Homo sapiens: one gene and its partners. Changing the gene in region 1 together with any one later gene gives a genetic interaction. Each region holds a gene or a part of one and is shown on either strand. Other genes may lie near its edges.

What was found.
Region 2: changes in FH (region 1) and COX6C together harm fitness less than expected from each alone (positive genetic interaction), as found in Homo sapiens cells (one large-scale study listed by BioGRID).
Region 3: changes in FH (region 1) and CARS2 together harm fitness less than expected from each alone (positive genetic interaction), as found in Homo sapiens cells (one large-scale study listed by BioGRID).

What each region holds. Positions count from the first base shown.
Region 1 is NC_000001.11:241,497,014-241,499,998, forward strand, and holds the end of FH (fumarate hydratase, mitochondrial), read right to left. Parts: intron 958-2,985; coding exon 815-957; 3' UTR 590-814; downstream 1-589. UniProt on the Homo sapiens protein: Catalyzes the reversible stereospecific interconversion of fumarate to L-malate. Experiments in other species have demonstrated that specific isoforms of this protein act in defined pathways and favor one direction over the other.
Region 2 is NC_000008.11:99,883,664-99,887,321, forward strand, and holds part of COX6C (cytochrome c oxidase subunit 6C), read right to left. Parts: intron 1-3,658. UniProt on the Homo sapiens protein: Component of the cytochrome c oxidase, the last enzyme in the mitochondrial electron transport chain which drives oxidative phosphorylation.
Region 3 is NC_000013.11:110,696,025-110,699,682, forward strand, and holds part of CARS2 (probable cysteine--tRNA ligase, mitochondrial), read right to left. Parts: intron 1,944-3,658; exon of another isoform or gene 1,942-1,943; coding exon of another isoform or gene 1,894-1,941; intron 1-1,893. UniProt on the Homo sapiens protein: Mitochondrial cysteine-specific aminoacyl-tRNA synthetase that catalyzes the ATP-dependent ligation of cysteine to tRNA(Cys). In addition to its role as an aminoacyl-tRNA synthetase, has also cysteine persulfide synthase activity.

The DNA of each region.
Region 1 (2,985 bases):
AGGAATCCTACCACCTTAGCTTCCTGAGTAGCTGGGATTACAGGCACACACTACCAAGCCTGCCTAATTTTTGTTTTATTTTTTGTAGAGATAGGGATCTCATTATGCTGCCCAGGCTGGTCTCAAACTCCTAGGCTCAAATGATCTTTCTGCCTCAGTTTCCCAAAGCGCAGTCTCCTAAAGTCGGTGTCCCTGACCCACCATGCCTGGCCTTGATCTGGTCCCTCTGTGGTAACAGAAACAAGGTTGGAGGGATAGGTGTGTGTTTAACACACAGGATATGTATGTCCCAATTTTCTTAACCTATTCTATCACACACACACACGTGCGTGCACACACACACACACATATACACATCCCCACTCAAAAGGGCTTGGTCACTGTGTCTCCAAATCAAAGGAAAATAAAAGATGGCTAAGGACATAGTTTGGGAATGAGATAATAAGATATAATCGGGCAATTTTTTAAACCACCAATAACCTCCAAAATTAAAACCCTTTAGAAATTGGTAACTTATGAAGTCACAAAGACAACATGCACAAATATCATAGATTCAACTATAATACAAGTCAATTAACATAGGAGAAAATTTAAGTCTGTTTTCCTTTTTATTTTATAAATGTATTTTATTTTATACTTGTTTAATCCATCTTAGACCTAGCACATCCTAGGGTTTTATATACTGATCAAATTGCTCTGCTAGAGATGCTTAAGTTCAATAGCAGTTTCCTTTCAAACTTATCCGTTTTTAAGAAATGGGAGTCTGTTTTTTTAAATTTTATACATGTTTATTTTCATTATAAATTTATGTAAATCACTTTGGACCCAGCATGTCCTTAGGTTTTACCCATTCGTCAAACTGCTCTGCTGTGAGATAGCCAAGTTCGATAGCAGTTTCCTTTAAGGTTGATCCATTTTTGTGTGCTGTCTTAGCAATCTTTGCTGCCTTGTCATACCCTGAAGAAAAAATAAAAAGACGACATATGGGTTAGCAGTGATATTTGGTTTCCTAAAGCAAAAGGTGACATAATTGTTTACTTGATATTGATGCTATATGGGCCTCTTAAATGACATTTTTTGTTTTTAAATTAGTTAACAGTGATTATCTCAATAATCATTTTTTATGTAGAACATTTACTTTCCTTAAGAAATAAACACTTAAACATACCTCACTTTCTCCAACAGATTTGTTCCTAAGTTGAAATTTTCCAGTAACTTAGATATTTTGAAGGGGAAAAAAGTAGAAATTATAGCACCACGACATAAAAATATACATCTGGGTATATTTTTCAAACAACATGTTTAACTAGAAACAATTATCTTTCTAAAGAAACATTAACAAGCTAAATGCTCCAGTCCAGCAGAAAATAAAGCACTGCACGTCTGGCAACTGTGGTGAGTGGCTCTGAGAGGGGAGAAGTCCTCGCAGTGAGGCAGGCGCAGGCAGGGCCTGGGGAGGGGTGCCTCCAGAGCTGCTTCCAATGGCTCTTCTCTATGTGGCTCTCCACTGCAATGGCTTCTATACCCTGGCCTCCTCCCAGACATTACAGGGACACAAATAGGGAGTCTGGGCAGAAATACAGACTGCACAAAAGATCACAGGCATACTGTTTACTTCAGAGTTATTTGCTTTTCAAATTAATAAAAGTGGGGGCAGGGCAGTTCTGCAAGCTGTCTTAACATATATATATATATATATATATATATATATATATATATATATATATATGTCAAGAAGAAAAAGCAGGAATGAAAATGAAACCAATGCGGGAGAAAAAAAACAAGATCAGAGAAATATGACCAAAAGGAAGAAGCTTGCTGAGGCAGTATACATCATCAATAAGATGGCATGTGTCAATATGCAATTATTAATCAGCTATAAAAGAAAGCATGGGCATAGTTACTTTTATTACTTAACTGAATTTGTGAATGCTAAATATGTTGAAAAGGGCATTTATTGATCTGAAAGGGCATTTATTGATGCCATTTACTGAAAAGGGCATCTTTCTTAAAGCAGAAATGCTTTGAGAAAGAATTTGCATGTTAAACTCTTGAGATCAATATATATCCAGTACTTTTATTTTAATAATGGCTTTAAAGTCTAAGCATTTCAGCTGTCAAGTCCAACAAGACACTATTGGCAACCAGCCTGGTACATAATGAGAATATAGGGAACCCATGATTCAGAGGGTTGTAAGGCTCACACCAAGTCAACTAGTGAGGTGGTGTTGACCCATCTCATTCTCATATGGCCTCTAACAATTCTTTTTATGTCACAATAAGTTGATTCCAATAAAGATTTGCCAATCATTCAACTTTAGGAGACACCTCTAATTTAAAGTTTTGGTAACACATTCTGAAGTAAAGATCTGATGAAAACTGCTCACACGAGCCTCTGGGTTCCCCTTTGTGTTTTTCCAGATGTAGTTGATGTACCATAATTTTAAATGGATCAAACATTATTACCAATCTCAATGCCACACCAAAAAACTGATATCATACTGGGCTCAGAGCTACCTAAAAGAGTCAAATGAGCTCTAATTTTAAAAAACTGTAATTATAGCTTGATGTGAAACCAGGAATATAAAATTTGCCTTGAAAGTTCAAGATTATAGAAGAAGCAGTAGCCATATTATGCCAAATAAGTGAATCATAACTTGTTCTATAACAGAAAGGCAGAAAATATATTAACCTCTGCTTAGCAGAAAGGAAGAATGGGTAAAAGGCTTTTAACACATCATAATATAATGCAACATAATGCCTCAAAATCTACAAAAGTGTAAACAGTTTATTTAATGGAGATCTCTATGGTCAGTCTACTACCCAAATCTGTATGTTTGATTCTACATAATGAAATATTTACAGTTCCAAAAAAGACTTATAATACAATAGCATGGTTTTAGACAAAATATTTGCATTTTCCTTCCTCCCTTTCACTATAAGCAATGAATACATAAACTTTTTCTTTTAATTGTAACTTTCCAT
Region 2 (3,658 bases), on another chromosome or scaffold:
TTTCCACATTCATTCTATAAGGCCAGCATTATCCTGATATCAAAGACAAACACACGAGAAAACTATAGGCCAAATCCTTTAACACAGATGCAAAAATCGTCAACAAAACACTAGCAAACCAGATTTGACATCGCATTAAAAGAATCATGTACTATGATTAAGTGGGATTTATCCCTAGGATGCAAGGATAGTTCAACATATGCAAATCAATAGATGTGACATACCACACTGACAGAATGAAGGATAAAAAACACATCTCAAAAAATGCAGAAAAAGTACTTGACAAAATTCAACATCCTTTCATGATCAAAACTATCAACAGAAGGAATGTACTTCAACCCAACAATGGCCAAAAAGGACAAGTCTAGTATACTGAACATGGAAAACGTGAAAGCTTTTCCTCTAATACCTAGAACCAGACAAGGATGCCCGCTCTTGCCACTTCTATTCATTGTAGTACTGGAAGTCCTAGCCAGAGCAATGAGGCAAGAAGGAATAAGCAACATCCAAAAAGGAAAGGAGTAAGTAAAACTATCTGTTTACAGATCATATAATCTTACCTCCAGCAAACCCTAAAGATTTCTAACACACAAGTGTCAGAATACATGAATTCTACTAAGTTGGAGGATACAAAAATCAGCTCTTTCTACACACCAACAATGAAGGAAATAAAGGAATGCCTAATAAAGGAAATTAAGAAAATAATTCTATTTATAATAGCACCAAAAATAATACTTAGGAATGTATTTAATCAGGAATATGAAAGACTTAAACACTGACCTAGATGAAACAGATATATACCTGTATACTGCTAAAAAAATTAGCAAATCTCATTCATGCAATCCCCATGGTAACCACAAAGAAAATACAGAATATACACATAAGGAAGTAAGAAGGAAACTGAAACATGTCACTATAAAATAAAGGAAAAGTACGGAAAGAAATGTGTGTCCTTGGACACATTGTTTTGATTATAGTAGTCTCCTTTTATCCAAGGTGATATGTTTCAAGACCCTTCCAGTGAATTACTGAAACTATGGATGGTACCAAACCCTATACAGCTACGTTTTTTCCTATATATACACATACCTATAATAAAGCTTAACTCATAAATTAGGCATAGTAAGAGAGTAGCAACACTAAAAGAAATTAAAGATGCAAACTACTGCTAAAAGAAATTAAAGATACAAATAAGAGGAAAGACATCCTGTGTTCATGGATTGGAATACTTAATATTGTTACGATGTCCATACTACCAAAGTAATCTACAGATTTAATGCAATCCCTATCAAAATCCCAATGGCATTTTTACAGAAATAGAAAAATCCATCCTAAAATTCACAGACTCTTAAGGAACCACAAATAGCTAGAGCACCCTCCGGGTGGGGTGAAAGAAAGAACAAAGCTAGAGGACTCACACTTACTGATTTTAAAGCATACTACAAAGCTACAGTGTAGCAGTCATCCCTTATTTGTGGTTTAACCTTCCACCGCTTTAGTTCTACCCACAGTCAACTGTGGTTCAAAAACAGGTGAGTACAGTACAGCAAGATATTGAGAGATCACATTCACCTTTTATTACTATACACTACAATTGTTCTATTTTGTTATTGTTGCTCATCTCTTACTATGTCTAATTTATGAGTTAAACGTCATCATAGGTATGTACGTACACGAAAAACAACATAATATATACAGGGTTTGGTACTATCTGTGGTTTCAAGAATCCACTAGAGGGGTCTTGAAACATATCTTAGATAAAACGGACTACTGTAATCAAAACAGTGTAGTACTGCCCCGAAGACAGACATACAGACTAAAGAAATAGCCCAGAAATAAACTCTCGCATTTAGAGTCAAATGATTTCACCAAGGTACCAAGACCACTCCATGGAAGAGGACAATCTTAAATGATTTCGGGAAAACTGGATACCACATGTAAAAGAATACAGTTGGATCTTTACACCCTACACAAAAATTCAAGTGAATCAAAGATCTAAACATAAGAGCTAAAACTATAAAAGTCTTAGAAGAACACATAAAAAAGACTTCATGACATTGGATTTGGCAATGATTTATTGAATATGACACTAAAAGCACACAGAACAAAAATAAAAATAAATTCGACATCAAAATTTCTGTGCATCAAGGGACACAACAGAGTGAAAAGGCAACCTATGAAATGGGAGAAAATATTTACAAATCATATCTGATAAGGGGTTAATATCCAGAATATATACAGAACAACTCAACCAATAAACAAAAAACCAAATTTGAAAATGAGCAGAACTGAATAAACATTTCTCCAAAGATAACATACAAATGGCCAATAAGTACATGAAAAGATGCTCAAGAACACAAATAATCAGGGAAATGCAAATCAAAACCACAATGATACCACCTCATACCTATTAGGATGGCTACTATCAAAAAATACCAAAATTATGCCAGGCACAGTGGCTCACGCCTGTAATCCCAACACTTTGGGAGGCCAAGGTGGACGGATCGCCTGAGCCCAGGAATTCAAGCACAGCCCAGGTAATATGGTGAAACCCTGTCTCTACTAAAAATAAAGAAGTTAGCCAGGTGTGGTGGCACATGCCTATAGTGCCAGCTTCTTGGGAGGCTGAGGCAGGAAGATCCCTTGAGCCTGGGAGGTTGAGGCTGCAGTGAGCCATGATCGCACTACAGCACTACGGCCTGGGTGACAGAGGGAGACCCTGTTAAAAAAAAAATTAACAAGTGTTGGGGAGGATGGAAAGAGTGTAAAATGGTGCAGCCACTATGGAAAAGGGTATGGCAGTTTCTTAAGAAATTAAAAATCATATGATCCAGGAATTCCACTTTTGAATATACCCCAAAAGAATTGATAGCAAGGCCTTGAAGGAATATTTGCATGCCTAGGTTCACAGCATCACTCACAACAATCAAAAAGTGGAAGCAACCCAAGCATCTACTGATGGATGAATGGATAACAATGTGACACAACTAAAATAGATCATTCAGCTTTAAAAAGAAAGGAAATTCTGACACATGCTGTAACATGGATGAACCTTGAGTACACTACGCTAAGTGAAATAAGCCAGTCACAAGAAAACAAATACTGTGTGATTCTACTTATGAGATGCCTGGGGTAGCCAAATTCTTAGAAAGTAACACAGTGGCTGCCAGGGTCTGAGTGGAGGTGTGAATGGGTTGCTTAATGGATATAGGGTTTCAATTCTGTAAGATGACGAGTTCTGGAGACTGGTTGCACAACAATGTGAATGAACTTAACACTACTAAACTGTACAATTAAAAATGGTTAAGATGGCAAATTTTATATTATAGATGCTCCTTAACTTACCATCAGGTTACATTCTGATAAAACCATCATAAGTTTAAAATATCTTAAGTTGAAAATGCATTTAATACACCTAACTTACATCATAGCTTAGCCTTCCCTACCTTAAATGTGCTCAGAACACTTATGTTAGCCTACAGCTGAAGAAAATCATCTAACACAAAGCCTAGCTTATAATAAAACACTGAGTATCTCACACAACACTACAGAGTACAGCATCAGCTGTTTACCCTTGTGATTATGTTTCTGACTGGGGGATGTGGTCATTGGTGCTCCCCCACATCACAAAAGTATTGTGCCACTTATTGCTCATGTG
Region 3 (3,658 bases), on another chromosome or scaffold:
CGGTGTTCGGTTTTCTGTTCCTGTGTTAGTTTGCTGAAAATGATGGTTTCCAGCTTCACCCGTGTCCCTGCAGAAGACATGAACCCATCCTTTTCTATGGCTGCACAGTATTCCATGTGCCACATTTTCTTCATCCAGTCTATCACTGATGGGCATCTGGGTTGGTTCCAAGTCTTTGCTATTGTGGACAGTGCTGCAATAAACATACGTGTGTATGTGTCTTTATAGTAGAATGATTTATAATCCTTTGGGTATATACCCAGTAATGGGATTGCTGGGTTAAATGGTATTTCTGGTTCTAGATCCTTGAGGAATCGCAACACTGTCTTCCACAATGGTTGAACTAATTTACACTCCCACCAACAGTGTAAAAGCGTTCCTATTTCTCCACATCCTCGCCAGCATCTGTTGTTTCCTGACTTTTTAATGATCGCCATTCTAACTGGCATGAGATGTTATCTCACTGTGGTTTTGATTTGCATTTCTTAAAGAATTACCTTTTCACTAAATACTAAAAAACAGATGTTTTCATAACTATGGGTTTCAGATACATGTTTTATTACATTGAAGTCAGACATTATTTTGAGGAAAGAAACTATTCAATACCATCTTAGGATCTTGCTGTGTACCAAGTATGGAAATTCTCTGGTTCAAAAATTAACTACTCTCTACAGTTAGAATGTTTAACCAATTCTACCAAGTTTTTCATATTCTAATCATAACATTTTTAAAAAAGTTAACAACCAATCCCTCCTTGTGGCATCTGTGAAATTAACTCTTGCTTCTTCCTCCCTTTACCACGCTGGCCACCTCCTCCTTCCTGCAGTTCTCTGCTCCCTGGATTCGGGGCTCTTGTCCCGCTTCTCTGATGGCAACGTTCCTGCCCCACCTTCCCCATCGCCCCCATGACACCCTCCAAGTACACTGTGTCCTCACCTCTCCTCCCATCCCCTGCGGGGCCCTTTCTCTGTCCCATGGGGCTCCCTCCAGAACTCAGCCAGTGTCTCAGCCTCTACCAGCTCCCTGCCACCAGGACATGGGGACTGACACAATTCTTTCTGATCTTGAAGATTCATGAGAGGCACGAAGCTACCAAGTGCTTTCATTTCAGGCTCTGGCTGCCCCGACGGCAGGTGAAAGCCCCGAACCACTGACCTTCCTTCTTTACCAGTGGGGCATTTCCAAACACCACCTCTGCTGAGGGTTACCTGGTGACTAGACATTCACGCACAGCCTTAGACATCACGCACCTGCCTTCTAAATCCTGCCTCTTATAGGCTGGGGGTAAGGATGTGAAGAAATACATTTAAAGTGGGAGCCGATTTCCAGCACTGCCAGTCTCTCAATGATCTGACTCTCAGTTGCAAGATATCAAATAAACTGTTCCCCCTTTGACCTAGCAATTCCGCTTTGGAAATTAATTAACTTTTTATTTAGAGACAGAGTCTCACCCTGTGGCCCAGGCTGGAGTGCAGTGGCACGATCTCAGCTCACTGCAACCTCCACCTCCCGGGTTCAAGTACTTCTCGTGTCTCAGCCTCTCGAGTAGCTGGGATTACAGGTGCACACCTCCACACCCAGCTAATTTTTTGTGTTTTAGTAGAGACAGCGTTTTGCCATGTTGGCCAGACTGGTCTCTAACTCCTGGGCTTAAGTGATCCAGCCTTCCAAAGTATAGGATTACAGGCGTGAGCCACTGCACCCAGCCACAGGAAATATATTTATAAGTAAACAAAACAAAAGCATATATGTTCATAGCAGCACTCTTTTTAACAGCCAGAAGCAATACAAACAGCAATTGGGAAAAGGCTAGAACTGCTAAACAGCCCCATGCGGTGGGAGACTACCCAGTTATGAGAAAGACAAATCAATAGAAAATAGGAAGACAGAGACCTCAGTGAAAATGTTCCTCAAGGACCTCACACCATTCCTTTGACTCATGCCTAAGAGACAAGAGAAGAGCTCTGTTCACTCAACAAATGACAAAGTTCAGCCTCTTTTCAGATAAACGCCCCAGCCCAAAGGCGGCCTCTGACTTCCAATCCAAATCTTTAGTCACTAGTTCCACCCCATTTCACAAAAGGAAGATGCATGGGTGTGACGGGAGGTTAAAGAGGAAGGGAAGCCACAATGACAGACAAATGCTATAATTCAAATCTCACTGACTTAAAAAGTATGTATATGTATATTTTTTTTTCAAAAAAAGAAATCCAGGCCAGGCGTGGTGGCTCACACCTGTAATCCTAGCACTTTGGGAGGCCGAGGAGGGCGGATCACCTGAGATCAGGAGTTCGAGACCAGCCTGGCCAACGTGGTGAAACCCCGTCTCTACTAAAAATACAAAAATTAGCCAGGCATGGTGGTGGGTGTCTGTAATCCCAGCTACTCGGGAGGCTGAGGCAGGAGAATCGCCTGACCCCGGGATGTGGAGGTTGCAGTGAGCGGAGATAGCACCATTGCACTCCAGCCTGTGCAACAAGAGTGAAATTCTGTCTCAAAAAAAAAAAAATCCAGCAAGTTTTTTTTAAAAAGCACCAGAAACACTGCTATGGTTTGAATGTTTGTCCCCTCCAAAACTCATGTTGAAATTTATTTGCCCTTGTAACAGTATTAAGAGGTGAGAACTTGAAGAAGTGATTAGGCCGTGAGGGCCCCACCCTCTTGGATGGGCTTCATGCCTTCTTAAAAGGGCTTTCCGGCCAGGTGCAGTGGCTCACACCTGTAATCCTAGCACTTTGGGAGGCCGAGGCAGGAGGATTGCTTGAGCTCAGGAGTTTGAGACCAGCCTGGGCAACATAGTGAAACCGCATCTCTACTAAAAATAGAAAAAAGAAAAAAATTAGTCATGTGTGGTGGTGCACAGCTGAGTCCCAGCTACCAGGAGGGCTGAGGTGGGAGAACAGCTTGAGCCCAGGAGATCAAGGCTGCACTGAACTATGACCACACCACTGCACTCCAGCCTAGGCGACACAGTGTGACCCTGTCTCCAAAAAAAAAGAAAAAAAAACCCAAGGAGGGGTGGGGGCAGGGGGCTTTTGGCAGGGCTTCTTTCTCTCCCCTTGACCTCTTGCCCTCCACCATGGGATGATGCAGTAAGAGGGCCCTTGCCAGATGCTGGCACCTTGATCTTGGTTTCCAGCCTCCAGCATAGTGAGCAAATACGTTTCTATTCATTATAAATTACCCAACCTGTGGTGTTCTGTTACAGCAGCACAAAACAGACTAAGACAAACACCGTCTAATGCTCTTGGAGGGTCAAACTGCCAAACAGCAGCCCACCACTGGACAATCCACAGGTGGTCTCCACAAAAAGCAGAGAGAACAGGGGTGGAACAGGTGCTGACCATGGACGCCGGTGACAGGTGCATGGGTTCATATGCTCTTCTCTCTACTTCATGTATGTTAGAACATTTCCACTGTAACACATGCTGGTAAAAGCAGTGGTAACTGGCAAAGTATCACAAGACTACATCTCGTCTACATCAAAATTAGGTCAGCTTTACTTAAATTCCTTCATCAGATTCAGGAAAAGGAAATAGCCAGTCATCCTAACTAACACACAAATGAATAGACTGTCTTGTATGCTAAACCACAGTGAATTGTGAAAATGGGCAAAAATGTCCAGAGAGAATGGTGATTAGAGGAAGCACCCGCAATG